Regions from separate parts of the Homo sapiens genome. Here region 2 is linked to region 1. Evidence: fine-mapped expression QTL. Tissue or cell type: whole blood. Region 1 holds a variant in brackets; the other region holds the start of a gene. All regions are shown on one strand. Distances are from middle to middle.

Evidence for each region. PIP is the estimated chance that this variant, and not a neighbour inherited with it, causes the effect.
Region 2: UTS2 starts here. The variant in region 1 is fine-mapped to the expression of UTS2 in whole blood (TOPMed, PIP above 0.99).

The regions. Positions count from the first base shown.
Region 1 is chr1:8,113,558-8,121,660 of GRCh38, forward strand. It overlaps ERRFI1-DT (ERRFI1 divergent transcript), which reads left to right. Exons shown (of 3, transcript NR_185980.1): 3 at 7,917-8,103. Among named protein-coding and RNA genes, the nearest start is that of LINC01714, 91 kb to the right of the region's middle. RefSeq lists enhancers at 2,037-2,537, 7,550-7,859. The variant C/T (reference allele first, on the strand shown) is at 3,881.
Region 2 is chr1:7,849,606-7,857,708 of GRCh38, forward strand. UTS2 (urotensin 2) reads right to left here and starts at 3,460. Exons shown (of 4, transcript NM_006786.4): 1 at 3,296-3,460; 2 at 1,207-1,317; 3 at 35-78. The coding sequence starts at 3,398. RefSeq lists an enhancer at 2,980-3,668.

The DNA.
Region 1 (8,103 bases):
TGTCTCAAGGCTGTAGAGGAAAATGCACTTTTTTTGTTTTTTTTTAATCTTCAATTTATTTTAAGTTCAGGGGTACATGTGCAGGATGTGCAGGTTTGTTCCATAGGGCAATGTGTGCCATGGTGGTTTTGCACAGATCATCCCATCACCTAGTTATTAAGCCCAGGATCCATTAGCTATTCTTCCTGACGCTCCCCCTCCCCCTATCCCCGCAGGGCCCCGTGTGTGTTGTTCCCCTCCATGTGCCCATGTATTCTCAGCATTCAGCTCCCACTTATAAGTGAGAACATGTGGTGTTTTGTTTTCTGTTCCTGCGTTCGTTTGCTGAGGAAAATCCACTTCTGGGCTCATTCTTGTTGGCAAAATTCAGTCCTTTGTATTACAAGACTGAGGTCCCCTTTCCTTGCTGCCTGTCAGCTGGGGACTGTTCTCAGCACCCAGAAGCCGCCCACATCCCTACCACGCGGCCCGTTCAGGCCAGCAGGGGTGCACAGAATCCTCCCGTGCCGCCCCGACTGCCTGTTCTGTGACCATCTGGAGAAAACTGTCTGCCTTGAAAGGGCTCATGTCACTAGGTCAGGCCCACTGAGTATTTTCTCTATTTTCATGTCAACTGATTTGGGACCTTAATTACATTGCAGCTCCTTTTCACAGCAGTACCTAGATTCACGTTTGGTTGGATAACTGGAAGACGGTATGTGTATATCAGGGGCCTGGAAATTTGGTGGGGCGGGTTACATCTTAGATTTCTGCCAAGCACACTGAGATTACAGTTGTGTGTGTGTGTATTTTAAGATGACTCTACACTGACTTTTGGGGGGAAATATTTAAAAAATAATTTAAAAATTGAATAAGTTACCAAATAAAAAGCGCATGTAGCCGGGCACGGTGGCTCACGCCTGTGATCCTAGCACTTTGGGAGGCCGAGATGGGTGGATCACCTGAGGTCAGGGGTTTGAGACCAGCCTGGCCAATATGGCAAAACGCTGTCTCTTCTAAAAATACAGGCATTGGCCAGGCATGGTGGCACATGCCTGTGATCCCAGCTACTCAGGAGGCTGAGGCAGGAGAATCGCTTGAACCTAGGAGTTGGAGGTTGCAGTGAGCCCAGATGAGATCATGCTACTGCACTCCAGCCTGGGCAACACAGCGAGACTCTTGTCTCCAAAAAAAAAAAAAAAAAAGAGCACATATAGACCACAGAGTATTTTTAGGGCAGTGAAGACACTCTGTATGATACTATAATCAGTGGATTTATGTCAATATGCATTTGTCCAAATTCATAGAACATATAACACCAAGAATGAAACTAATGTGAACTGTGGACTTTACTTAATAGTGCTGATTGGCTCAGCAATTGTAACGAACATGCCACACTCATGCAAAGTGTTAATAACAGGGGAACTGAGTTGGGGCATATGGGAATTCTGTACTTTTGGCTCTGCTTTTCCTGTACACCTAAAACTATTAAAAAAATAATAAAGTCTACTAGTTAATTAAAAAATCAAGGCTGGGTGCAGTGGCTCACACCTGTAGTCCCAGCACCTTGGGAGACCAAGGCAGGTAGATTGTGTGAGCCCAGGGCAGCACAGCAAGACCCCATCTCTATAAAAAATTTAAACATTAGCTGGGCATGGTGGTGAGCCCTTGTAATTTCAGCTACTCAAGAGGCGAAGGCGCAAAGATAGCTTGAGCCTAGGAGTTTGAGGCTGCAATGAGCTATGCACACGCCGCTGCACTCCAGCCTGGGCAACAGAGTGAGACCCTGCCTCAAAAAAAAAAAAAAATTCAAACAGCACAGAACTAGTATATGATGTGAACATCTTAGGCCATTATTGGGCACCGAAGAGGCTTTGGGTTGCATTTCTTCACTCATCAGCATGGGTAAATCATTGCAGAGCTTGAGTGTGGACACCACCAGGGGAAACAAGGTTGGGAGTAGCAAGGAATATGGGAAACAGAGACAGTGAATGGGACCTGATAGTGAATAGAGCCGGCTCAGCCGGCCTCCCGGCCTGACAGTGAATAGGCTGGCTCAGTTGGCCTCTGGGCCTGACACAGTCTATGTGTCTTAATTTTTTTCAGTAGCCCCAGTGTTCAGAGCTTGCTGGCTGTGATGTCACACTTTCCTTGATGATGGGATTGCAGTCATCCTCGCGCCTACCTGCCTGGCTGCAGGAAGCTCTATTCACTTCTAGGCTGTTCTCCCCAGGGCCACTTCCTTGTCTGCAAATCCATGTGAGCCAGCCCTTGTGCTCTGATTCCAGACTTCACCTCCTGGATTCCTGCAGGCTACCTCTGCTGCTTCCCAGACCTTTCCCTCCCATCCCTCTCGGGGTGAGCTCTGACCAGGCAGTAACTTTCAGCAGGACACCGCTGCACGCTTTGGAATCACAGAAGGCAATGACACCACAGAATGTAACACTGGATGCCAGACGCGCCTGCCTGTGAGTCCCAAGGCCTGAGTCTCTTTGGAGAGTCGGTTCCCCACTGGTGCCTCTGTGCATGCCATGGCCGGCCACATGTGGGACGATACAGATGACACGTGTGTCACACCAAGGCAGGATCAGAAGAATGTTTGAGATTTCAGAAAAAAAATTCAAGAAGTCATTATGGGAAGACCAGAACTTTGAGGGGTCAGAGTTGTTGGCGCTTAACCTCTTAAATTTTAGTTTACGATATTAAAAACTTAGAGGGCGGGTGAAGTGGCTCATGCCTATAATCCCACACTTTGGGAGGCTGAGGCAGGCGGATCACTTGAGGCCAGGATTTCAAGACCAGCCTGGCCAACATGGCGAAACCCCGTCTCTACTAAAAATACAAAAAATTCGCCAGGCGTGGTGGCGCACATCTGTAGTCTCAGGAGGTGAGGCACGAGAATCACCTGTGGGAGGCAGAGGTTGCAGTGAGCCAAGATCGCGCCACTGCACTCCAGCCTGGGTGCCAGAGTCAAGATTCTGTCTCAAAAAACAAAAACTTAGAGATTCCTTGTTTCTCTTTTAAAAAGTCAGATGGTGTCGTGACAGTGTGCATTGGCACCAGGTGTCTGGCGCTGGGCAGGGCTGTCTTTTCGGGCAGATGTGCTCTTTTGAGCTCACCAAGGCCCCTCCACGCCCCACAACCTGGATGATGACACCATCTCATTTTTTAGGCTTCATATTAAGGGCATTGGGTGTTCCCAATTAGCAGGTTGCGCTGGTGGCCAAAAGTATTTCTCAATCACGTAGAGTTTTTCTGGGACCTTCCTTGTTCATGGCTGAGTAAAAACAGGCCCTACCATCTAATCATTTAGACTCTCCTTTTGTGCCCTTTCTGCCCCAGGGTCTTGGAATGTGAAATTCCTTGAACAGCCATAAAAACCATAAAGTTGAAACTTTTCAATATCAATAGAACAATCAGAAAGGTGCCTTTTCTGGGTCTGTTTTAGAGTTGACTCAAAAACACAAATTCTAATCCCGCAGAGAACTGCTTGTGTTGAAATATTTACAGAAGGTCAGGGGTTTCTCCTCCCGCCTGGAGCAGAGAAGTGAAGCTGTGGGCCGTGGTTGAGCGAGGCTGGCCTCTCAAGCCTTGTTTATTCTGGAAATAACTTTGGAAAATGCCTCATATGGTTCCCCAGAGGCCTGGAGGTGGGCCTGTACAGTTCACGACAAACGAAAACAAACCATTCCTCTGCAATGTTTAGCAGAATTTATTAAAAAGATCTTTTTTAGAACTTCTAGACAGAGCTGATGGACTAGAAATGAACTTGCAAGTGTGAGGAAGTCACTCCACGGAGTGACACACACGCAAAATAAATAAATAAATAAATAAATAAATAAATATATAGTTCACCCAACTTTGTAACTGATTTAGATGGTGGAAATTTTGTAAAGTCCAC[C/T]GCAGCACAGCAGTTTGAAAGAGACACTTGTTTGTTTTCATCAATCCCCAGAATGAAATCATTCCCCGAGGACCGGGTTAGCTGCTTCCTTCCCGGCATGGCCCTGCCTCTTTAAACTCATTCCCGGGGGGGACGAGACTGTTGCCTGATGCAGCAGGGGCAGCCAGCAGAAGCACTCCTGGCTGCTGGATGAAGAAACCTTTACATCCCAGGATCCCCCTCTGAGATCAATGAACAGATGGGTTTTCACAACAAGCTCTGTCTCAAGGCAAGCCTTATGTACGTTACCGACCGTGGCCGTGATGTCCAGCCTGCAGCATCTTTTTTTTTTTTTTTTTTTTTTTTCTGAGACGGAGTCTTGCTCTGTCACCCAGGCTGGAGTGCAGTGGCGCGATCTCGGCTCACTGCAACCTCCACCTGCCGGGTTCAAGCGATTCTCCAACCTCAGCCTCCTGAGTAGCTGGGACTACAGGCACCCGCCACCATGCCCGGCTAATTTTTTGAATTTTTAGTAGAGACAGGTTTGCACCATGTTGGCCAGGATGGTCTTGATCTCCTGACCTTGTGATCCACCTGCCTCAGCCTCCCAAAGTGCTGGGATTACAGGCATGAGCCACCCGCCTGGCTGCATCTTTTGCATTCCTAGACACCTGACTCATGGAGCATTTATGAGGGCCTGGTTGCCTCTGAGGGTCTCATGCTTTTTGTCAGCCTCTCTCTCTGCCATTACTCTGATAAATCTCCCCCCTCTGCCGCTCTGTTCTCCTGAAGGGACCAGTTCTAGGACCTGGTGTAGGGTCTGTGGGACCCAAAGTTCACCAATGAGTTCTTCCTTGAGATTTTTTAAGCAGGACCTCGGAGAGAAAATCCACGTTCCTCCACACTCTTGGAATTTTTAGGGCGTGGGCCTGGCGGCTGTTGATAGACAGGGCTCCTGCGGAGGAAAGCCTCTAAGAAGCCTCAAACCCCAGCAGTCCAGCTGAGACCATTGTGTTGTCCCAGTGTGTGACAGTGAGGGGACACTCAGGACACACAGAGTCGTGGTGGAGCGAAGCTTCTGGGCCCGCACCCTCCTCATGTGAACACTATGTCTGCCTTTCCTGCAGTGTGCTCACCTGGGCCTGCACGGAGCTCTTCTCGCCTAAGCTGGTTTGAATTCAGTTGGCATCACTTACAATGAAAAGGGTCTTAAAGATAAATATGCACATCAGTGAAATGCTCCTTTATGGTCTAAAAAAGAAGGTCAAACTTTCATGTTGATAAGAATTATTTGAAATTTGAGGCCGGGTGCGGTGGCTCACAGCTGTAATCTCAGCACTTTGGGAGGCCGAGGCGGGTGGCTCACCTGAAGTCAGGAGTTCAAGACCAGCCTTGCCAACCTGGGGAAACCCCATCTCCACTAAAAAATATAAAAATTAGCCGGGCATGGTGGCACATGCCTGTAATCCCAGCTACTCAGGAGGCTGAGGCAGGAGAATCGCTTGAACCCAGGTGCTGGAGGTTGTGGTGAGCCAAGATTGCGTCACTGCACTCCAGCTTGGGCAACAGAGCGAGCCTCTGTCTCAAAAAAAAAAAAAAGAAAGAAAAGAAATTTGAATGTGTACATCTAGCCAATGATGGGAAAAATCTAAAAAAAATTAAATACAAAGTGCACATCTTTGGTCTGGCTGCAGATTTATTCATTGCAGCTTTTAAAAAGTTTACATTCTTTTCCAAGTATAAAACCCTTTTTAAAAAAATGTTGTAACGATATTATTGTGACAAGTGTTGGCATTTATTGAGTGTTTACTATGTGCCAGGCACTACTTTATATTTGCATTGGCTCTTTTCATCCTCACAGAAACCTGTGAGTCCCTACTGTTATCTCCCTCTTTTTGTAGATGTGGAGACTGAGGCACAGAAAGGAAAGGTTAAACGGTTTCTCCCGAGTTACACGGCTAGTAAGTGGCAGAGGTGGGACTTGAACCCAAGTGCCTCTGCAAAGTTCAGGGACTGGGCTTTGAATATAGAAATATTTAGTAAGTATTGAAAACCATTAAATTTATTTCACTATGACAATCTTATTTATGACCGAATTATCCATTTTTAATTTTTATTTGTTTATTTTTGAGATGGAGTCTCACTCGGTTGCCCAGGCTGGAGTGCAGTGGCACGATCTCAGTTCACTGCAACCTCTGCCTCCCAGGTTCAAGCAATTCTCCTGCCTCAGCCTCTCGGGTAGCTGGGACTACAGGCAAGCACCACCAGACCCAGGCAATTTTTGTATTTTTAGTAGAGATGGGGTTTCACCATGTTGGCCAGGCTGGTCTTGAACTCCTAACCTCAAGTGATCTGTCCACTTCAGCCTCCCAAAGTGCTGGGATTACAGGTGTCAGCCACCGCGCCTGGCCCATTTTTAATTTTTAAAAAATGTTTTTTACTGTCGAGTAGGGGTTCAGGACAGACTGCCCCCAAATATGCCACTTTGGAATGTTGGTGATTTTGAGCAGAAAGCACTGGAAAACAGTAAATGCAGAGACATGGTTTCCCTGAACTCCTCTCATCTGCCCAAAGGCAGAGCCTCCAAAAGGACATCAGTTGTCCTAAGTCCCCTCCCCAGGAGTCAGCAAGGGCTGCCTTAACATCCGGACAAACTGCCACAAACCCTCGTATCTCCCATCTAGTCTTCTAAAGGCCCATTTTTCTTTCCTAAAAATCATTTCCTCTCCTCACGGTAGCCCACATCTCCTCTCCCTTTTCTCTGTTAAGATGGCATCACTTTTTTGTGATATTGTTTTTTTCTTCCTATGATGGCCCCTGTGCACATATTAAAAATTAATAAATTTGTTTACCCTTTTTCCTGTTAAATCTGTGTATTGTCAGTGTATTTCCTAGACCCAGCTATCGAACCTAGATGGTAAAGTCTTTCTTCCCCTGACTCTATTTCAAAGCAATAAAAAAGTTTAAAATGCCCCAAAAGACATAGTTTACTCTATGATTGGATTATTAGAAGACGTTAGCCCAGGGAGGTTCTACTCTGTTTTTCAGGGGTGGAGCTGGTACTAGAATTCACAGCCTGGTTTTCATCCCAGCTGGGCCATTCCACAAATGGAACTTTAAACAAATACTTCTCCTCGAAGTAGAAGCTGGGTTGGGGTCTGGTCTTGAAGGATGGATCTGAAATGGCGGAGGAGAGCCTGGCGAAGCCCTCCGGCCTCCTTCCCAACGGGTCCCAGCTTTTTGCCACTTCCCTACCTTGTATTTGGCTACTAAGGAATCTAATCTGTCCAGTTTTTTATCTTGGTCATCCATAGTGTTCTATAGATCACATAGAAAGATGGTTACAATGTTCAGCACCTCTTGCTAAACATCCTGTCCTGGAGGCACATGGAGAAGGTTGACAAAGCCTCATTCCTCTGAAACATTTCATGCAACGGATTTGGTTGAAACCCCAGATTGTGATCTGGAGTCTTTAGCAACTGTGCTCATTTCCTACCTTGAGCATTTCATTTTTGAGCAACTAGAATAACAACTGGTCTTTTTTAGTCTTGACCAAAGGGGGATAAGGGAACCAAAAATCCTTTGCTCCTCGTTTCCTGTTAGATTGTGAAACAAAAAGGTAAACATTTAACGGAATGTGGCAGCTCAGAACAATTACCCCTATTGTGGCATGAACACTGATTTCTATTCCTTTTTACACAAACTCCTTCCGGTAGAGAAGCTGAACAAAAGAACGTGCCAGCCCAGCCCGTGGGCTCCTCAGGCCGATCAGATCGGGAAGTGAGAAACGCCGGCAGAGATTTGCTCTGGGAAAGTTTGTAGACATTTTCAAAGTCAAGGGTGAAGTGTCCTTGGTTTACTTAGAATCGTTTTCTTTAAAGGAAATCACTGTCACAACTTCAGAAGCCCCGACATGCCTGTGTAGTTATGAGAAGGGATGAAGGCTTCGCATAGCTTCATAACCTTGTTATTAAGAGTCTGGAACTCAGTGACTGGCTGGGTGCTTGACCCTTTGTTCAGTAGCCTTGGCAAGTGCTCTCATTTTCTTCCTTTTTAGGTTTCCCCACTGCGAGCCCTTCGAGAACAATGTCATGTTGATCGATGGCAGTGACTCACACCAGATCTTTCCATGCCTCCTCTGCAAGGACTCAAGAGAGTCGAGAGCAAAACCGTGCCATAGTTCCATAAGGAGGGCAAAGAGCTTTATCCACGCTGAGGAACAGGCGGATCATGCGGCTACAGCA
Region 2 (8,103 bases), 260 kb before region 1:
TTTTTAAACCTAACTCATAAATAGAGTCACTTACCTTTCTCAAATTTCCTCTTGGGTTAAAAATGTTGGTACTTGAGTCTGAAAAACAGTTTTGAAGCCAGTTCATCAGATCTGTTGTTTCTCTTGTATGCTTGTTTTAAAATATACAAAATAATATTACTAAATTATGTCTAGTTTCTGGTCTTTTTCCACACTGCAGCAAGCTTTTCTTGAATGCAGACAGACAGGCACTCCTGTTCTTATCTCGAATTCACAGAAGTCACTGCATTGTCCTCAGTAACTTCGCAGTCCAGTAGCTCGTCAAAGATATTTTATAACAAATGAACTCCTGTCTATTAAACAATACCTATCTTAAAAGGCTCAAATTTTTTTTTTTTTTTTTGAGACAGAGTCTTGCTCTGTTGCCCAGGCTGGAGTGCAGTGGTGAGATCTTGGCTCACCACAACCTCTGCCTCCTGGGTTCAAGCAATTCTCCTGCCTCAGCCTCCCTAGTAGCTGGGATTACAGGTGCCCGCCACCATGCCCGGCTGATATTTGTATTTTTAGTCGAGATGGGTTTTCACCATGTTGGCCAGGCTGGTCCTAAACTCCTGACTTCAAGTGATCCGCCCACCTCAGCCTCCCAAAGTGCTGGGATTACAGGTGTGAGCCACCGCACCCAGCAAAAGGCTCAATTTTGTTTCCAGAACTTCCTGAGCATATGTGTCAATGCTTGGGGGAATGTGGCCACGGGGGAATAAGCTGACATTTTATTAATGACTTTCTGTGTGACTCGAGCATTTTACTTGCCTTGACTCATTGACTCTTCACAAGTTACCTTCTGAGGTGGAAACTTAATCATTCCTGATTACAGATTAAGAAACTGGAGTACAGAAAGATTACTTTAAGTTTTCAGTAAACGGGAAACTAGGATTTTAAATTGCACTCACTGGAAACTGGAATAATTACCACCAAGCTCTACCCCGCAAAAATAAAAGTCCACACAGAAAGACAAAATGCTGAGGTACCAAAGAGCACAGTGCGAGCAAGGAGCTGCTGGGGAAAAGAAGGTTGCACAGGCCGGGAGGGGAGAGTGTTGGTAATTACTTATTTTATATAGCTCATCTTTATATTCCAAAATAGAGCTTTACCTCTTCTAGATGAGGACAGACGGTAAGTTCAGTAGCAATTAAATCAGACACGCTATAAACATGAGAAGCATTTTACCTGCTTTCCTGAGAATATCCCCTCTTTCTGCACCCAGCATCTCTGGCAGTATCTGTAGAAGGGAAGCTCTTTCTAGCTCCTCCGGAGTTAAGCGCGCGTCTTCATGAGGTGCTACAGAGTAAAAACAGATACTTAGAATTGGGTTCATCCTTCAGTTAGTTATTTCTGTTCCTTGTGTCTTTGGCGAGCACCAGAGATAGGGAGATGAACACTAGAAAAACTTCCAACGCTGAGTTCATGACGTGTCATCAGTGGTATTCTAGAAGAGGTGGAAATGCTACCAGCCCGTGTGCCAGCCAGCAGAATGGGAAGCCGGGAGACGTGGATCTGACACCCGCGTGATGAGCCAAGCCCCTCGGCTGCCTCGAACAAGAGCTGAGGGATAAGCCACAGCCTTTCTCAAAACCATTTTGGTTCAAAAAGTCTGACTCTCCCTCATTTCTGCTTATCTACTGCTGCCTACTGCCTTTTTGCTTTTAGATATTTGGGTGGTGACATTGGAGAGGAAAAAGAAAGATCGTTTACAATCTTCCTATAAAGCCAGTAGGATGGTATCACCTCTTCTTTTACTGAACTTCAAGATTTCAATACAATTATTATACTTAGAATTGGCTTCAAAATCATCTGTAAGGAACTTGATTGTGGCATTTCCTATGTGAAATGTGGTCGACCAGATGGCATATAGAATGCATGGTAAGTGCGCTTAAGGTGTGTGGAAAGGGCACACCGGAGTGTGAGGCGTGGTAAGTGCAGACCTGCTGCTGTGTTGCGATTCGAGGCTGTGGGAGTCAGGGTGGGAGGCCATGTGTGGGACCAGCGTGCCACAGGCTTACAAATAGCTGCAACCTTGATTGGAGGACAGTGAGCAGATCATCATAAAGGCATCAGAGCACATTCACAGCACTTCTAAAGACTGTTAATGAAAATCTATAAAATTTCATCATCTGTAAATGCTGATAGGAAAGCACATTTCTGGAGAAATAAATGAGAACAAATTCTGCGATAAGCTGCCACTTGTTTCGAATTTGTGTGAGATGCTACACTCATTTCATCTATGTTTCTTAAATTACTTGTAAAATTTTTTAAGATGACAGTAGTAGCTGAGTATTTTCACTTATTTCATCTTGAGATGTGTGCTGTTTCTTTGTAAATAGCAGAGATTCAGTAAAGTTAATGCCAGTGTTTAACTATTAGTAGGACAGCCAATGATCATCTCGGTGACTCGGGAAGTTGGTTGGCAGTGCCTGATGACAGTGCTTGACGATCATCAGAAAGCTGCTTGGGATGAACTTTTAGAGACGAGAAACTATAAAATCCTTGGCTTAAAAGAGGGTTTGTTTGTTTTTTTTCTTTATTTAAAAAAAGCCTATTTAAAAAGTACTCAAGATTAAAGATAAGATTAAATCTAGTTAAGTTTTTGATGGAACCTAATCCCCAAGCATTAGCTTTCTCATTTCTCTAACTAAATGGAAAGATAATGGCAAAATGAGAAACTACTTGACTGATGTGTATTTCTTTAACTCAACTTAGACTTAAACTGAATTAACATAAATCAAAAGGAAACGATCAATATACTTGGAAGTCTATGAACTCCCTAGTTCCCTAGTTTGTCATTTACTAAAAAATTTTTAGTAAACATTTTTGTTTCGTAGAACACATATCAGATGATTTTTTTAAACAAAAGGTGAAACAAATAAATCCATTAATAATCTATAATTAGAACAACCAGTGCTACATTCAACCAGTTCATTTAAAGTAAAAACTAAAAGTAATGATGTTTTAAATTTCATGCAATTTTTAAAATTGGAAAAATGTATATATTACCCAAAACAAGAGTACAGAGGTAACATGAAACAAGCAATTATCCTCTTCTCCTTTTACATTGTAGAGACAGAAAAAAAACTGTATCCATTACTACATCTAAAATGTGCAGTAAGGATCCTTTAATATTCTTTTCAAAGCTGGGACTATTGAGAGAACAAGACTCCAGACTCCTTCGAGCAGGAATCCCATTCTTATCTCTAACATTGAATTTAAGACTAGTAAAGGCTCTTTCAAGACTAACATAAGGGGAAAAAAAAAATCTTACCTGAGAGTTGAAAGGATATTTCCCTGGAGTCAAGGAGAGGAAGAGATAAGAGAGGATTTAAGAATCCTATGAAAAGCAAACAGCAGGAGGCCAGCTTATACATGATCGCCACAAGATAGACGGCTTCCTTCTTGGCTTCTGTTGTAGAGAACTTTCAACTGTCTCCTCATTCTGCCTGCTCACTGATTATATATATCATCCTATGACCTGACATCATCCTCTCCAAAAAAAAAAAAAAAATGAATTTATTGGCTATGGAGGCTAAAAGGCAATCACTTTGCATTGATGTAATTTTTCAAGGTAACAAGTCATAGACAATAAATTAACTGTCTTGTTGCCTAGTGTACAAAGTAGGTATTATATAAAGAACAGTGAGTTTATAAATCTGGCAAAAGAGGCAACTTACAGCAATAAATCATGAATTAAAGGAAGGCTTGGATATGAGTTGAAGTGGCCAAAGCAAAGAGACGTGGATTTATGAGTCCGAGCAGAAGTGACGCAGAGCATAAGATGAAATACGTTGGTTTCCATTTTTTAATCTTTCATGAGTGAGTAGATGAGTTGCCATGCTGTGTTTAGGGCTGCCATCCCTGAAGAATGACAATCTGTGGATTAAAACGTAAAACCAGCTATTTCCTTTAAAACAGTGAAAAGTTAAAATACATAGCAAACATTGCTCCAGGCTCAAGACAATTCTGTACATACACGTGGCCTCATGTGAAGCCGCAAGCACTTCAATCTTCAGAGAAAGGAAATAACTTCATAAAGTTGATTATTATTCAGCAAGGAGGGAGGAAGGACTTAACACCAGAAAACTCGCTGATAAACATTTCCAGAATGTGGCCTCTACTCCCAACTGTACTCTGCCCAAGCTGGTCCAAGCCCGGATGGGTGGAAAGGTCCCCGACAGGCGTCCTGAAGTCTGCCTTCGGGCCTGCCACAGGCTCAGCACAGCAGAGTGATGCCAGAAGCATCTGCATAAGTCAGATCATGGTAGTTCTTTGCTCAAAACTTTCTGTGGACCTAAACACAAAAGTTACAAAGATAGGCCAGGCACGGTGGCTCATGCCTGTAATTTCAGCACTTTGAGAGGCCGAGGCAGGAGGATCACTTGAGTTTAGGATTTCAAGACCAGCCTGGGCAACATAGAGAAACACTGTCTCGGCCGGGTGCAGTGGCTCACGCCTGTAATCCCAGCACTTTGGGAGGCTGAGGCGGATGGATCACGAGGTCAGGAGTTTGAGACCAGCCTGACCAACATGGTGAAACCCCGTCTCTACTAAAAATACAAAAATTAGCCAGGCATGGTGGCACGTGCCTGTAATCCCAGCTACTCAGGAGGCTGAGGCAGGAGAATTGCTTGAATCCAGGAGGCGGAGGGTGCAGTGAGCCAAGATTGCGCCACAGCAGTCCAGCCTGGGTGACAGAGCGAGACTCTGTCTAAAAAAAAAAAAAAAGAGAAGGAGAAACACTGTCTCTACCAAAAATACAACAATTAACCAGGTGTGGTGGTGCATGCCTGTATCACTTGAGCCTGGGAAGTTGAGGCTGCAGTGAGCCAAGATCGTCCCACTGCACTCCAGCCTGGGTGACAGAGCGAGACCATGTCTCAAAAAAAAAAAAAAAAAGAAGAAAGAAAAGTGGTTACAACGTAATGATAGAACTACTAGGGGAAAAAACATGAACACCTTCACAACCTCAGGTTAGGCAAATATTTCTTAGACAAGACACAAATCACACAGGAAAAAAATTGAGACAGGAGGAATAAGTTCAAGAGATCTATGTACCTCAGGGTGACTCTGATTAATAACAATGTATAGTTGAAGATTTCTAAAAATCGATTTTGTGTTCTCATCACAAAAAAATGCTAAAAACGTGAAGTAATACACATGCGAATTAGCTTGATTCAGCCATTCCACAATGTATGCATATATCAAAACATCAAACTAATAACAATAATAATAATAATAATAATCATGGCCAGGCACAGTGGCTCACACCTGTAATCCCAGCACTTTGGGAGGCCGAGGCAGGTGGATCACCTGAGGTCAGGAGCTCAAGACCAGCCTGGCCAATGTGGTGAAACCCTGTCTCCACTAAAAATACAAAAATTAGCTGGGCGTGGTGGCAGGTGCCTGTAGTCCCAGCTACTTGGGAGGCTGAGGCAGGAGAATTGCTTGAACCTGGGAGGCAGAGGTTGCAGTGAGCCAAAATCACACCACTGCACTCCAGCCTGGGTGGCAAGAGCAAAACTCCTTCTCAAAACAAACAAACAAGTCATGATGTATACCATAGATACCATTTTTGTAAATTAATCAATAGATGAACAAAACTGATAAATTGGACTTTATCAAAATTAGAAACATTTGCTCAAGATACTGGTAAGAAAATGAAAAAGCCGAGCAAGGCGCGGTGGCTCACGCCTATAATCCCAGCATTTTGGGAGGCTGAGGCGGGCAGATCACCTGAGGTCAAGAGTTTGAGACAAGCCTGGCCAACATGGTGAAACCCTGTCTCTACAGAAGATAAAAGAATTAGCCAGGCGTGGTGGCGGGCCCCTGTAGTCACAGCTACTCCGGAGGCTGAGGCAGGAGGATAGCTTCAACCTGGGAGTCGGAGGTTGCAGTGAGCTGAGATCATGCTGCTGTATTCCAGCCTGGGCAATATGACAAAAGGTTTGAAAAGGACTTCAGGCTGGTCTTGACCTCCTGGCCTTAAGTGATCCACCTGCCTCAGCCTCCCAAAGTGCTGGGATTACAGGTGTGAGCCACCACATCTGGCCATTATTATTATTATTATTATTATTATTTTATTATTTTGAGACAGGATCTCACTCTGTCACCCAGGCTGGAGTTCAGTGGCGTGATCATGACTCACTGTAGCCTTGACCTCCCAGGCTCAAGCAATTCTACCTTGGCCTTCCAAATAGCTGGAACCACAGGCACATGCCACCACGCTCAGCTAGTTTTTTTTTTTTCAGATGGGGTCTCAATGTGTTGCCCAGGCTGGTCTCAAAATCTTAACCTCAAGCAATCCTCCTGCCTCAGCCTCAGCCTTCCAACCCTCTGGGATTACAGGCGCAAACCACCATGCATGGCTTTTTTATTTTTTGTACAGACAGGGTCTTGCTATGTTGCCCAGGCTGGCCTCAAACTCCTGGGCTCCAGAGATTCTCCTGCCTCGGCCCCCGGAAGTGCTGGGATTCCAGGTGTGAGCCTCCACACCTGGCTATCGCACTATTTTATGTATTTATCCTTTATAGTAGGCAGACTCGATAAATATTTGTTGAATCAGTGAGTGGGGCACCAGCCTATGGGAGTCTCTGTTTAGGGGAAAGAACGGTGAACAAAATAAAAAGTTTCTACTCTCATGAACTTTCTGACTGGAGGCGATAGACAACAACATTAACATACGCTGTAGGAATTGTTTATTGCTATGAAGAACAATAACAAGGAGACAGTACAGGGGCAGGTAGTCAGGGCAAGTGTGATTTCAGACAGGGCCCTCGGGATGCCCTGGAAAAGGGGCATCTGAGCAGGAGCCGAAAGGAACAGGGCAGCCATCCGTTCAGTGGTGAGTGGAGTGTGGAGCCTCCAGCGAGAGAAGTCGGGGAAGCGTGGCCTCCGAGGAGGAGGAACTGAAAGAAGATTCCTGCGAGGGCAAATAAAGTGAAGAGAGTCCCTGGGGGACCCCTGCTGGCAGGAGAGCCCAGGGCGAGTGCTCGCACACTGTCCTCTAAGATGGAAAGTGCTCGAATCACTTAAGACTTGTTAACTCTTTCGACAGATATTTCTCAGCACCCCCATGTGCCAGCAGGGTCGGACAGAGGACGGAACCTAACGTCCAAGAGAAACCACTTCCATCCAATTTAAGAAAACAGCCGGGCACGGTGGCTCAGACTTGTAAGCCCAGCACTTTGGGGGGCCGAGGCAGGTGCATCACCTGAGGCCAGGCGTTTGAGACCAGCCTGGCCAATATGGTGAAACCCCATCTCTACTAAAAATACAAAAATTAGCCGGGAGTAGTGGTGGGCGCCTATGATCCCAGCTACTTGGGAGGCTAAGGCAGGAGAATTGCTTGAACCCAGGAGGTGGGGGTTGCAGTGAGCCGAGATCGTGCCATTGCACTCCAGCCTGGGCCACAAAGGAAGACTCTGTAGGAAAAGAAAGAGAGAGAGAGAGGGAAGGAAGGAAGGAAGAAAAGGAATGAAGGAAGGAAGGAAGGAAGGAAGGAAGGAAGGAAGGTGAAGCATGTTGGAAAGACACTGGATAGCTTCCAGAATCCCAGGAAAAGTGGAGGAGCAGGGACCAGGATCCCACTGGCCTTCTGACCTCTGCCCTCTGCCCTCAGTGACTTGACTCCTCCCTCTTCCCTCCTTCCTCTCCCTACTCACCCTTGCTCTCCCCACAATCCTCCATCTCTCCTGTAATTCAACCTTTTGGCCTCAATGCCCTAAATAAGTGCATTAAGTATCAAAATGTAATTTTGGTAACCATTAAAATAGTAACCAAAAGATTATAAAAACTTGGAAAATATAATAAAAGAACTAGAATATCAGGTAGTTACTACTATGTTAAAAAAAAAAAAAGATGAGCTTGTGGGCAAGCACTGGTGGTGTCATTTTACAGAATTGAAAATAAAGGGATTTTTTTCTTTTCTTAAAATGTTTTGATGCAGCATGGTGGCTCCCACCTGTAATCCTAGCACTTTGGGAGGTTGAGGCAGGAAGATTGCCAAACCCAGGAGTTTGAGACAAGCCTAGGCAACCTAGTGAGACCCTGTCTCTACAAAAAATACAAAACTTAGCC